3 separate regions of the Homo sapiens genome follow, and regions 2 and 3 are each linked to region 1. The links come from fine-mapping of genetic effects on gene expression. A gene starts in region 1. Each other region holds a variant in brackets. All regions are shown on one strand. Distances are between the middles of the regions. Region 1 holds the start of PDSS1 (decaprenyl diphosphate synthase subunit 1). Region 2 overlaps FAM238B (family with sequence similarity 238 member B). Region 3 has its middle 26 kb from the start of FAM238A.

What was found. PIP is the estimated chance that this variant, and not a neighbour inherited with it, causes the effect. A credible set is the group of variants that fine-mapping cannot tell apart.
Region 2: its variant is the best candidate, but not a certain one, in a credible set for the expression of PDSS1 in whole blood (INTERVAL, PIP 0.56).
Region 3: its variant is the best candidate, but not a certain one, in a credible set for the expression of PDSS1 in whole blood (INTERVAL, PIP 0.88).

Annotation. Positions count from the first base shown.
Region 1 is chr10:26,695,369-26,699,612 of GRCh38, forward strand. It overlaps PDSS1 (decaprenyl diphosphate synthase subunit 1), which reads left to right and starts at 2,333. Exons shown (of 12, transcript NM_014317.5): 1 at 2,333-2,472. The coding sequence starts at 2,344. RefSeq lists a silencer at 2,006-2,625 and an enhancer at 2,500-3,388.
Region 2 is chr10:26,651,488-26,655,731 of GRCh38, forward strand. FAM238B (family with sequence similarity 238 member B) reads left to right here. Exons shown (of 5, transcript NR_026794.1): 5 at 1,578-1,967. Among named protein-coding and RNA genes, the nearest start is that of FAM238B, 11 kb to the left of the region's middle. The variant C/T (reference allele first, on the strand shown) is at 2,008.
Region 3 is chr10:26,614,055-26,618,298 of GRCh38, forward strand. No RefSeq gene overlaps it. Among named protein-coding and RNA genes, the nearest start is that of FAM238A, 26 kb to the left of the region's middle. The variant A/T (reference allele first, on the strand shown) is at 2,093.

The DNA.
Region 1 (4,244 bases):
CTGTGATAACAGGCATGACCCACTGTGTCTGGCCTGGTACTATATTTACAATCTCTTTGGCTATAAAACCTGTTCCTATTGTAGATATTATGTTTTAAACAGTATCATCAATATGGCAAGAAAATGTCTTGGAGGGTACCTAACACTCCAACCTCAAAACGACAACCTTGATCGCTTTCAGTTACACATAGGCCATTTTGATCCATCTGTACTGGCTCTTTTCATTTGTCTAAGGGCAGCAAAATAGACTAAAGTTGTTTTCAGACTGCACAAGAGAAGTCTGTTCTTTAGCACTTACCTGCATAACTCAGATAGTGTTTTTAACTTCCTCAACTCATGCTTGGCCTAGTGGGGTCAAAAGAACTACTTGTGAATTCCGTATGTCCAATTGGTAGCTTACTGTTTTTTCTCAAGAGTTTAGCTATACAGTAACGTTGGAAGTCTTGAGGAACTTCAGCTGCTGTCCCTACTTAGCCTTGCAATACTACGGCATCTTTTTTTCTTTTTCTTTTTTTTAAAGACGGAGTCTCACTTTGTCACCTAGGCCGAAGTGCAGTGGCACAATCTCGGCTCACTGCAACCTCTGCCTCCCAGGTTCAAGTGATTCTCTTGCCTCAGCCTCCTAAGTGGTTGGGATTACAGAACATGCACCACCATGCCCAACTAATTTTTGAATATTTAGTAGAGACGGGTTTCACCATGTTGGCCAGGCTGGTCTCAAACTCCTGACCTCAAGTGATCCACCTGCCTCGGCCTCCCACAGTGCTGGGATTACAGGCTGAGCCACTGTGCCCCCGACCTACAGCATCTTTTTAAGAGCAATGTTTTCTGTTTTAATGTGGCCAAGCAATCTCTAAACGAACATGGTCTGACAAAATTGTGTAGTGACATACTTGACAACTGGGTGAGCTTGAGTGTGATACTTATTTGACCATACGGTATTTCCTCTATATGTTTCCTTATCTTTATATACAAAAAAGGGCAAATGATAATGTCTTAGTCATAGGATCAAGTACAACCCAAGTGCTTACTGCTACACTCTACTTGGCAAATTCCACCTTATGAATGTTTCTTAATATATAAACCTAATCTAAACCAAGATAAGCTACAGGTGCATATTAACAATCTTTACTCATAAAGCTTTGCATATTTTTACATACTATTCTTCAAGATGGAAAAAACACCATCAAACTGGCTTATTTTCATAGATGTCTTTATATAGTCTATGATGTCTTCATTCCATAAAAAATCCACACGATTAAATATGAAATTAATGTACCCAGCTATGAGGCTACCGCATTCTTTAACCCAAGAACAAGAAAATACATGAATCAGAGAACTGCAATTACCTACTTGCTGGTCTATTTCCTCATTAGAGTGAATTTTTTGAGGACTAAATTGCATTTCTCTATCTCTAATGCTTACCCCCTATCTCACTGGCTCTGTGTGTTTGAGTGCATGCGCTGAATGTTTATATCACTTAATTTCTGTTCGGAACACGCTGTCTCTTAGCACCAGTAGATCTGGCCTTAGAGCTAAGGAAAGAAGGCCTTTCTAACCCATAAGGGGTACTAATCCTGTACAGACTCCAATATCTCCCGGGCTGGGTACACGCAGGTTCACACCCAGGTGTGAGCAAGATTGCCAAACTATACCTATAAGGCGTTTGGAGGGGAGAGTCCAAAAGTCACGAGACCCGGCTAATTTAGCTACTATTTCACAACAACCCTGATCGTGGTCGGACTTGTTTCTAGGAAGATGCGATGGGCTGGAACTTCCTTCAAGAACAGATTGCAAAAGGCAGCCGACCAGGGCGTGTCAGGTCACTGCCAAGGGAAGCAGCAGCGGAAACCGTCGCCTCCGGCTTAGGCTGCGGAGCGGGAACCCCATTCTCTGAGTTATGTTTCTGCCTAAACACGCAGAACAAAAGAGTTCGTGGCTGCAAGGGTGGCGCGCGGTAGTATTTCTTGCTAATAAAAGGTCCCCACAGGGACATTTTTGCTATGACTGCAGGCGTGGCCAGTCTCCCTGCACAGCTTCCGGGAAGAGGTGGGGATAGGAGGCTCGCCCCGGGGAAGGTTACGCTCGGGGTCCCCAGACCAGGTCTCCGCACGCCCCTGCCCCGTCGCCTCCCGGGAGCGGCTGCAGTCCCCGTTGGCTGCAGACGGGCAGACACCCGAAGTGTCCGCGCCGGCAGCCGGACCGCAAGCGAGGAAGAGCGAACCGCGCTCCCGGGCCTGGCCGAAGCGCTTCCTGTGCCAGGTTTCCGGCTCCGGGTCCCGGGAGGAGGATCGCGGGCCAGAGGCGGAGCCGCCGCCCTGCCGCGACTTTCAGACTCCGACCATGGCCTCGCGCTGGTGGCGGTGGCGGCGCGGCTGCTCCTGGAAGCCGGCGGCGCGGAGCCCCGGGCCCGGCTCCCCCGGCCGTGCGGGACCGTTGGGGCCGAGCGCCGCTGCCGAAGTCCGCGCGCAGGTGAGGTTGGGAGGCGCGCGCCCGGCGGGGCTCAGAGGTCACGGCTCCAATGACAGCAGTGGGCGGAATGAATGGGAGCGGGGAGCACGTGCGTCGCGACGCGGGGGCGCGCGGGGTAGCTCCGGGGTAGCTCCGGGGTGGGACTCCGGAGCTGAGGGGTGCTCGCGGTGGGACGGAGCCGCGCGTTGGACTGAAGTAGGGGCGCCCTACACGGGGTTGCAGAAAGCGGTGTCCTGGGGACCCCGGGAGCGTTTTGGGGGGTGGAGAAAGCGGTGGGATCCGTGTCCTGGGGGAAGCGCAGGAGCGATCAGATTGACCGCTGCTATATGGACAAGGTTAAGCCTGGAGAGCGACTGCAGCTATTTACTTTGGAGTTAGAGGAAGACAGATCTTGCCTGAAATTTTAGAGCCAAAGTGCTCAGAGCTCTCTCCGAGAAACGGAGGATCGAATCGGCCTCGGAATAGTCCGAAAAGGTCTTGTGGAGAATGCAGGGCTGGTGCTAGGGTGGACCGGACCTTAGTTGTCCAGCAGTGGCCTCGGGAGGAGAGCACACCTGGATGGGGCTGGAATGACACTGGAAGGAGAAAGGCCCGAGGCCGTCAGGAGGAGAGAAACCCTGGAGTCATCTAAAGTCAGAATCTCAGCGATAGCCCATTCTTTCAGGGTCTCCTCTGCTGCCTTTGGGTTCCGATCTCCTTTTTCTCCCTTTCTGGTCAGTTTAGCCCCTGTAAATGGACACTGTGAGCCCTTCTGCGCTTTGTAATGATTCTCAGTGTGCCATGGGGTAGGCCCATGCTATTAGCATAACCGTGCAAAATCTATGGACTCACTGTTACTTAAGTTTATTTGAATTTAGTACTCTTTTAATTCAGATTTGGTATACTTTATGTGTCCGTGTTCTCATCAAACATCATTTCCCAGTATGAAATATATAACACTTATAAATATCTACTTTGTACCAAAGTAGATGCGTATCACAAATTATCCAAAACAAGGCTTGGGCCAGGCACAGTGGCTCACACCTGTAATCCCAGCACTTTGGGAGGCTGAGGTGGGAGAATCGGTTGAGGCCAGGAGTTTGGGACCAGCCTAGGCAACATAGCAAGACTCTGTCTCTATAAAAAATAGAAAAAATTCACCAGGTGGGGTGGTGCATGCCTGTAGTTCTACCTACTCAGGAGCCTGAGGGAGGAGGATTGTTCGATCCCAGGAGTTCAAGATTACAGTGAGCTGTTTATTGTGATAGTGCCAGTGCACTCCAGCCTGGGCAACAGTGTGAGACCCTATCTCTAAAAAATCTAAAGCAAAAAAGACGTTTGGAGACCAAGTGGCAGCTGGGCAACTAGACAATGCTAGAGAGTAAAGAGAACAGAATATGGGGGGTGAGGGGCATGTGGGAGAAGAGGCTTAGAGGAGGAAGGTAGGCTTTGCTGTGATCCATTTCAGGACTGTTCTCTCCAGACTTCAGATATTTCTAGTTCCACAGAAGAAGCCAGTATTTGAAGAGATGGGTGCATCCACCCTCTTATGCCACTACATGCTTCTTCTTCTTCTTCTTTTTTTTTTTTTTTGACACAGAGTCTCACTCTGTCGCCCAGGCTGGAGTGCAGTGGCGGAATCTCGGCTCACTGCAAACTCCACCTCCCAGGTTCAAGCGATTCTCCTGCTGCAGACTCCCAAGTAGCTGGGATTACAGGCGTACACCACGACCCCCAGCTAATTTTTGTATTTTTAGTAGAGACGGCATTTCACCATGTTGCCCAGGCTGGTC
Region 2 (4,244 bases), 44 kb before region 1:
GCCAATCGAAGGAAAGCATTTAAAAATGCTGAAAGAAATAAAAGAATCCCAGAATAGAAATCACTTAACTATATGTGAACATCAATACCCAAGCTGCCTGTTCAGAAATTTTTTAAAAAGGAAAAAGTACATTGCCAGTTAATTAGCTTATCATGCTAAGTAAATAAACTAAATAAAATAGAAACTAAGTCAGAAGGCACTTCGTTAGAAAAAAAATCTTCCAAATTTAATCTTCAGTGGTAACAGGCTATTAAGCAGAGGAAGAAATAAACTGGAGCCCTGATGAAATGTAAATTGGAATGATAATTATCACTAAAACAGAGGGATTCAATCCAGCTGCCTGGGGATGTTTCATTATATAAATACAAATTATTATTATCTATGCCAGTATTGGCAGAGGAAGGGCTATGTCTCTATTAGACTTTAGCCAAATTTGGCATTCTGGTTTCTACCAGTAGCACGCTGGTGATTTTTCTTTTCAGAACTCATATAAGTATCTCATTTGATCTCATCACGATCTGAGACACAGGTCATAATAGGGACTACAGGGCTCATTTTATACCCGGTGAACCAGCCAACTTTCATGCAGTTGAGAAAAAGTAAACTGTCCAGGTGAGGCGGCTCACACCTGTAATTCCAGCATTTTGGGAGGCCGAGGTGGGCAGATCACTTGAGCCCAGGAGTTGGAGACCAGCCTGGGCAACATGGCAAAAAACCATCCCTACAAAAAATACAAAAATTAGCTGGGCATGGTGGCACATGCTTGTCATCCCAGCCACTTGGGAGGCTGAGGCATGAGGATCACTGAGCCCTAGAGGCAGAGGTTGCAGTGAGTCGAGCTTGCACCACTGCACTCCAGCGTGGGTGACACAGCGAGATCCCGTCACAAAAAAAAAAAAAAAAAAAAAGACCAGGCGCGGTGGCTCATGCCTGTAATCCCAGCACTTTGGGAGGCAGAGGCAGGGCAGATCATGAGGTCAGGAGCTCAAGACCAGCCTGACCAACATGGTGAAACCCCATCTCCACTAAAAATACAAACTTAGCTGGACGTGGTAGCCAGCACCTGTAGTCCCAGCTACTCGGGAGGCTGAGGCAGGAGAATCGCTTAAACCCGGGAGGCAGAGGTTGCAGAGAGCCAAGATGGCGCTACTGCACTCCAGCCTGGGCGACAGAGCAAAACTCTCTCTCAATAATAATAGTAATAATAATAATAATAATAATAATAATAATAATAAAGGCCAATTAGAGTCATTTCCCTATTCCAGAGCAAAGATGAGCTCATGAACAACCAGGGTTCTCAGTGACTGAGGGACGGGGGCCCCCCAGGCAGCAGACAGAGACCTCACATATCTATGGCATGGTCTTGTCCACTGGGGCTCTTTTGTCAAGAATAAAGAATGCTACTCAGGAGACTGAGGCGGGAGGATCGCTCAGGAGGTCGAGGTTGTGGTGAGCCCAGATCGTGCCATGCACTCAGCCTGGGTGACAGAGTGAGACCCTGTCCCCGTTAATTAATAACAATAAATTAAAATTTCAAAAACTTTAAAATAATAAATGCTGCTGTCGCTTGGTTGCAGGATAAGAAGCCAGCCCTCGGGAACCACCAGGAGCCAGGAGCACCCCCGGCCCCCCAAGGCCCCAAGTCCAGCCTGCCCCACCCCCTCCGGTGCAGAGGTCCTGTGACACCAGTGGCAGCCCCGCCACACCCCCCAAGGCCAAGGGCACAGGCAGCGTGGTCTTCCCCGCCCCGCCCGACTACTTCCTGCCGCCACAGCCACCAATGCCGCCCCTGGAGTACCCAGAGCTCCCGCTGCCGTCCCCGGACTTCATGGAGACCCCCCTGGACTTCGTGCTCCCTCCCCTCGCTGTCGCCAAGAGGCCTCCTATGCCCCACCCCCCCAACAGGCACGAAGCATCAATGTTCACAAGCAGCAAATGAATAAAAGTTAAACGTTCTTCCTACTGCATTTCTATAAGGATTATTGGGTCAGTCGATCTTGAGGTCAA[C/T]ACTATAATTAAAACTAGCTTTCACCATCCCATGCCTTCTTAAGTCTTGGTGACCTTAGATTTTCAGCTCTACCTCTGCGACCTTCAGAATTTTCAGGAAAATAGAGGAAAACGAGAAAACATGACAATCTCTTTCTCTGAGATTCCTGTTGCTTGATTGCTTGGAGCCCTGGACACAGGCTGTTTTGGTTTCGCCTTTTTTTTTTTTTTTTTTTTGAGAGGGAGTCTTGCTCTGTTGCCCAAGCTGGAGTGCAGTGGCGCGATCTCGGCTCACTGCAAGCTCCTTCTCCTGGGTTCACGCCATTCTTCTGCCTCAGCCTCCCAAGTAGCTGAGACTACAGGCGCCCGCCACCACGCCCGGCTAATTTTTTCTATTTTTAGTAGAGACGGGGTTTCACCGTGTTAGCCAGGATGTGGTCTCGATCTCCTGAGCTCGTGATCCGCCCGCCTCGGCCTCCCAAAGTGCTGGGATTACAGGCATGAGCCACCACGACCGGCCTGGTTTTGCTTTTTTAATGCTTGAATAACAGTAATTTTAAAAATAGTTATTCAGATAGTTTTTGAATTCTCTATTATTACAGTGCTGTAAGTACCCTGTAAATAAGAATGTAGGGCCAGGTAAAAGCAATCTTACTGATGTATATTTCAATCTGGAATGTTTTCCCTCAGGGATACATTTAATGCCCAGTTTATCCTAGGCTCTTTTTACCTATATCTCTTCTCTTTCAAATTGGCTTCGGATGGGCTAAAAGGCTATTTTCTTAAAATTAAGGAAGGTAATTAATGGTATGTTTTAATATTTGGGGAAAAGTAAGCTGTAGATCATGCTGTCTCAACCCACGGGCTCCTGTGGCCCAGGACAACTTTGAATGCTGCCCAACAAATATTAAAACATTATAAGCTCTTTGTAGGGCGCGGTGACTCACACTTGTAATCCCAGCACTATTGGGAGGCCAAGGCTGGCAGATCACTTGAGGTCAGGAGTTTGAGACCAGCTTGGCCAACATGGCAAAACCCTATCTGTACTAAAAATACAAAAATTAGCCAGGTGCGGTGACGCATGCCTGTAATCCCAGCAACTCCAGAGGCTGAGGAGGAGAATCCTTTGAACCCAGGAGGTGGAGGCTGCAGTGAGCTGAGATCTTGCTACTGCACTCAATCCTGGACGACAGGGCAAGACTCTCTCTTTAAAAAATTATGAGATCTTTTTGCAATTTTTTTTTTTTTAGCTGATCAGCTATTGCTAGTGTTAGTGCATCATATGTGTGTCCCAGGGAAGCTAAAAGATTGGACACCCCTTCAGGCTAAATGGAAATTTAAAATGAAGCAAATTTAGTTTTAAAACCAAAATATTTACTAACTAAAACTGGCAATGTGTTCTTAATTTTTTTAAGCATATGCTTGAAATAGGATAGAAGGTAAATTTGCTTCACATTAAATTTTATCTCAGGAACAGTAACTCTCCAGTTTTAGTATATCATGTTCTTTTGATGTCAGATACAGTAATAATACGGCTTTTCTTTTTACAAAAATTTTTAAAATTTTGTTTTACTTTAAGTTCCAGGATACATATGCAGAATGTGCAGATTTGTTACATAGGTAAACGTGTGCCATGGTGGCTTGCTGAACCTATCAACCCATCACCTAAATACGAGGCCCAGCATGTGTTAGCTATTTGTCCTGATGCTCTCCCTCCCCTCAATCCCCCACAACAGGCCCCAGTGTATGTTGTTCCCCTCTTTGTGTCCATGTGAAAGACACAGCTTTTCTGATACCTGACTACATAATGGTCTTTATGCAGATCTCTGGGACAATACAGGAAAGGTTCAGCGAAGAGAGCTATGAAAGTTGTCAGAATCAAAATGGAGTCACTCATGTTAAGAAAACGCTGACAAATAGAACCAGGCAAGTCCATGAATAGAGGGTTCTCATGACAATCGTCAACCCTGTGATTTTCACTCAAGTGGAACACAATCTTTGGTGTCTGGCTGTGAGGTCTTTACAAGTACCAGCTATACCTGAGTGGGGTTATTTAGATTGACCCTGAAAATGCAGCAAACTTTATTCCTTTATGAAAATTTTAGTGAGATACTGGAGGTGAGGGGAGCGCAAAAGCTGGGGTGAAATTGGACGTTAGAGAGGAAGTGCAAGGATAATAATATATTACGAACAGTGTATAATTAATAATATAGGGCAGTAATACTACACCACAGCTTATGAAAACTCCATAATTTCTT
Region 3 (4,244 bases), 81 kb before region 1:
GTCTCTACTAAAAATACAAAAATTGGCCAGACAAGGTGGGGTACGCCTGTAGTCCCAGCTACTCGGGAGGCTGAGACAGGAGAATTGCTTGAACCCAGAAGGTGGATGGTGCAGTGAGCCGAGACTGCGCCATTGCTCTCCAGCCTGGGTGACAGAGTGAGACTCCATCTCAAAAACAAAACAAAAAACAACAAAAAAAAACAACTCTACAGGGTTTAAGGCTTGTATTGGTTCTTCAACAGTGCATGTGAGTACCAGCATAAAATGCTTTCAAATGCATTTAATCCAGATGAGAGATGGCTTTTTGAACCGTGGAATCCCTGCATTTGGGCACTAGAAAAGACCAAAAGGGTCATTTAGTTCAGAAGTTTCTAAACTGAGAAACAGTTCAGCAAAACGTTAATAGTAATGACTTAAACAAAACAACAAAACCCTGCAGTCAAATGTTTGGAAATTGGTGCGTTAAATAAAATTAAGCAGATGTCTTCGCCATAGCACTTCTCACAACTGGAATGACGTGGATCAGCCCTCTCACATTACAGATCAAGAAACTGAGGTTCACCTAGAAGAAAATATAGGCAATACCATTCAAAACATAGCCATGGGCAAAGATTTCATGACAAAATCTCCAAAAGCAATTTCAATGAAAGCAAAAATTGACAAATGGGGTCTAATTAAACTGAAGAGCTTCTGTACAGCAAAGGAAATTATCATTAGAGTGAAGAAACAACTTACAGAATGAGAAAAAATTTTTGCAACCTTTCCATCTGACAAAGGTCTAATATCCAGAATCTATAAGGAACTTAAGAAATTTACAAGAAAAAAAACAAACAATCCCATTAAAAAGTGGGCAAAGGATATGAACCAACACTCCTCAAAAGAAGACATACATGCAGCCAACAAACATGAAAAAGAGCTCAACATCACTGATCATTAGAGAAATGCAAATCAAGAAGATACCATCTCATGACAATCAGAATGCCTATTACTAAACAGTCAAAAAACAACAGATGCTGGCAAGGTTGTGGAGAAAAAGGAACACTTTTACACTGCTGGTGAAAGTGTCAATAGCTCAACCATTGTGGAAGACAGTGTGGTGATTCCTCAAAAACCTAGAGGTAGAAATACCATTTGATCCAGCAACCCCATTACTGGGTATATACCCAGAGGGATATAAATCATTCTATTGTAAAGAGAGATAGACGTGTATGTTCATTGCAGCACTATTTACAAGGAAGGTCATGGAATCAACCTAAATACCCATCAATTATATACTGAGTAAAGAAAATGTGGTGTATATACACCATGCAATATGTACAGCCATAAAAAGGAATAAGATCATGTCCTTTACAGGGACATGGATGGAGCTGGAAGCCATTACCTTCAGCAAACTAACACTGGAATGGAAAACCAAACACCGCATCTTCTCAGTTTTCAGCTGGAGCTGACTGAGAGAGAACACATGGACACACCGGGGGGAACAACACACACTGGGCAACTGTAGGGGAGTTGGGGGCAGGGAGAGCATCAGCAAGAATAGCTAACAGATGCTGAGCTCGATAACTAGGTGATGGGGGCTGGGTGCGGTGGCTCTCACACATAATCCCAGCACTTTGGGAGGCCGAAGTGGACAGATCACTTGAGGTCAGGAGTTCAAAACCAGCCTGGCCAACATGGTGAAACCCCATCTCTACTAAAAATACATAAAAAAAAAAAAATAGCCAGGTGAGGTGGTGCATGCCTGTAATCCCAGCTACTTGACAGGCTGAGGCAGGAGGATCGCTTGAACCCAGGAGGCGGAGGCTGCAGTGAGCCGAGATCGAGCCACTGCACTAGAGCCTGGGCAACAGAGCAAAGCTCCGTCTCAAAATAAATACATTAAATAAATTAATAAATAAATAAATAACTGAGTGATGGGATGATCTGTGCAGTAAACCGCCATGGCACATGTTTACCTATGTAACAAACTGGTACATACTGCACATGTACCCCTGAACATAAAAGATGAAAAGAAAAAGAAATTGATGTTCAAGTTTGTCACAGGTGACCCTTAAAGTCCTCCTAATGGCTTGATTACTTTGCCTCTTAGTCT[A/T]CAGGACTTTGAAGAAGAAAGGAAATAACTAACCCAGCAAACCAGAACCTGATGTTATAATAATTGTAATAGTTCACATGTTAAGCACTTTTCATGTATTTCCTAATTCAATCCTACACCAACCCTATGATACTTTACTATTTGTCTTAAAAATTGTTCCTGACCAAACCAGCCTTACCAAAAAACCCCCAAACGACCAGAGAGTGTTAATCTTATCTAGCTTACAGGAAAGTCACAGAAATTCAACAATTGGTCTTATGTTCCCGTTTCTTTTTTTAATTAGTCAGATACCATACCCTGAACTTGTTTTAACATCTTGCTTTATTTCCAGAATGTTCCTTAATTCCTTCCTGATTTCTGCAGCACATATAACACCCCCAAGGAATCTTGATTTACTCCCATTCTAGTAGTCATACAACAATGTTCTATGGCTATGTTGATATAATTATAATCTATTCATCCTTCTTTTTATCTGATTTATTTATTTATTTATTTATTTATTTATTGAGACAGGGTCTCACTCTGTCACCCAGGCTGCAGTGTGGTGGCACAACTTCGGCTCACTGCAACCTCTGCCTCCCAGGCTCAAGCAGTCCTCCTGCTTTAGCCATCCAAATAGCTGGGACCACAAGCACATGTCACCATGCCTGGCTAATTTTTGTAGAGACAAGGTTTCGCATGTTGCGCAGGCTGATCTTGAACTCTTAGGCTCAAGTGATCTGCCTGCCTCGGCCTCATAAAATGCTGAGATTATAGGCGTGAGCCACTGCACCTGGCTTATTTGTCCTTTTATATTCACACGTTGTACTGCTTCATTTTGCCAAAATCTCTTGCCAAAAGTGCACTGAGTGAGTTCTCTAGCAATAATCCACAGAAATTTTCTGTTTTTGCTGCTCCAGTATTCTCAATGCCATTCAAAGAATTAAGTTCTAGCTTTAGCACAGCAAGAAATCACATCAGCTAATCTATAAACATCTTCTGATGACATATTCCTTTAGGTACATCTTGTTGAACTCCCAATGCACTAATTTAAAACTTAACACAAAAATAATTTCCTTAGTAGGACAGCATTTCCATCAAATAATTCTATTTGCATAAGGGAAGTTGTGCTGTTGCTACTCTTACCTGGTGGCCCCCATATCAGTGAGCCAGTGGAATGGATCCAAACACTACCTTTTGGCCACTTATAAGCAGGATAAAAATCATCTACTTCTGACACAGATAAATCAAGGTCCAAAAGAGACGAGGTTTCTCTATGTTGGTCAAGCTGGTCACGAACTCCCGACCTCAGGTGATCCACCTGCCTCGGCCTCCCAAAGTGCTGGGATTACAGGCATGAGTGACAGCACCTGGCCTCAAAGTGTGATTTCTAAGAATGACATCTCCATGTATTTGAATTTTAAACACAGGTAATCATGTATAATTAGACTAATAATATTAACTCTAAAAATTATTTTAAACAAATATTTTAGTGAGTTAAGTATTTGTGTGGTGAAAAAATAATGCCTAACTTTTGAAACTGCTACAAGACATACTCTTGATTTGAAAGGAGTTGAGAAGGAGGTTGAAAAAATACAGTTTTCCACTTTATGAACATAATTTTCTTTCACAGGATCAACAGGAAACATAGCTGATAAAACACCCTTCTTAGTGTTCTCATTTGTTGCATATACAGCACTAATATCCCTTAGAAAGTGTATGGTTCTTCAAGAAACTCAAGTCACTATTTTCTTCATGCTTTGTTATTTAAAGGGTGCTTTGTCATTTCAACACGATCTAGCCAACATTGATTTAGGTCAGTACATGGAACTGTTCAAGAGGCTAGGAAATGGAAAAAGCTTAAAACAGTAAGACACATATCCTGTCTTCAAAGATCTTCAGTCATGGAAAGCAAATCGGATTGCAATATATTTATAAATATATATATAATATATATATACACACACACATATATATATTGTTTTTTGTTGTTGTTATTGTTTGAGATGGAGTTTCTCTCTTGTTGCTCTGGCTGGAGTGCAATGGTGTGATCACAGCTCATTGCAAACTCCGCCTCCCAGTTTCAAGTGATTCTCCTGCCTCAGCCTCCCACGTAGCTGGGATTACAGGCATGTGCCACAACGCCTGGATAATTTTGTATTTTTAGTAGAGA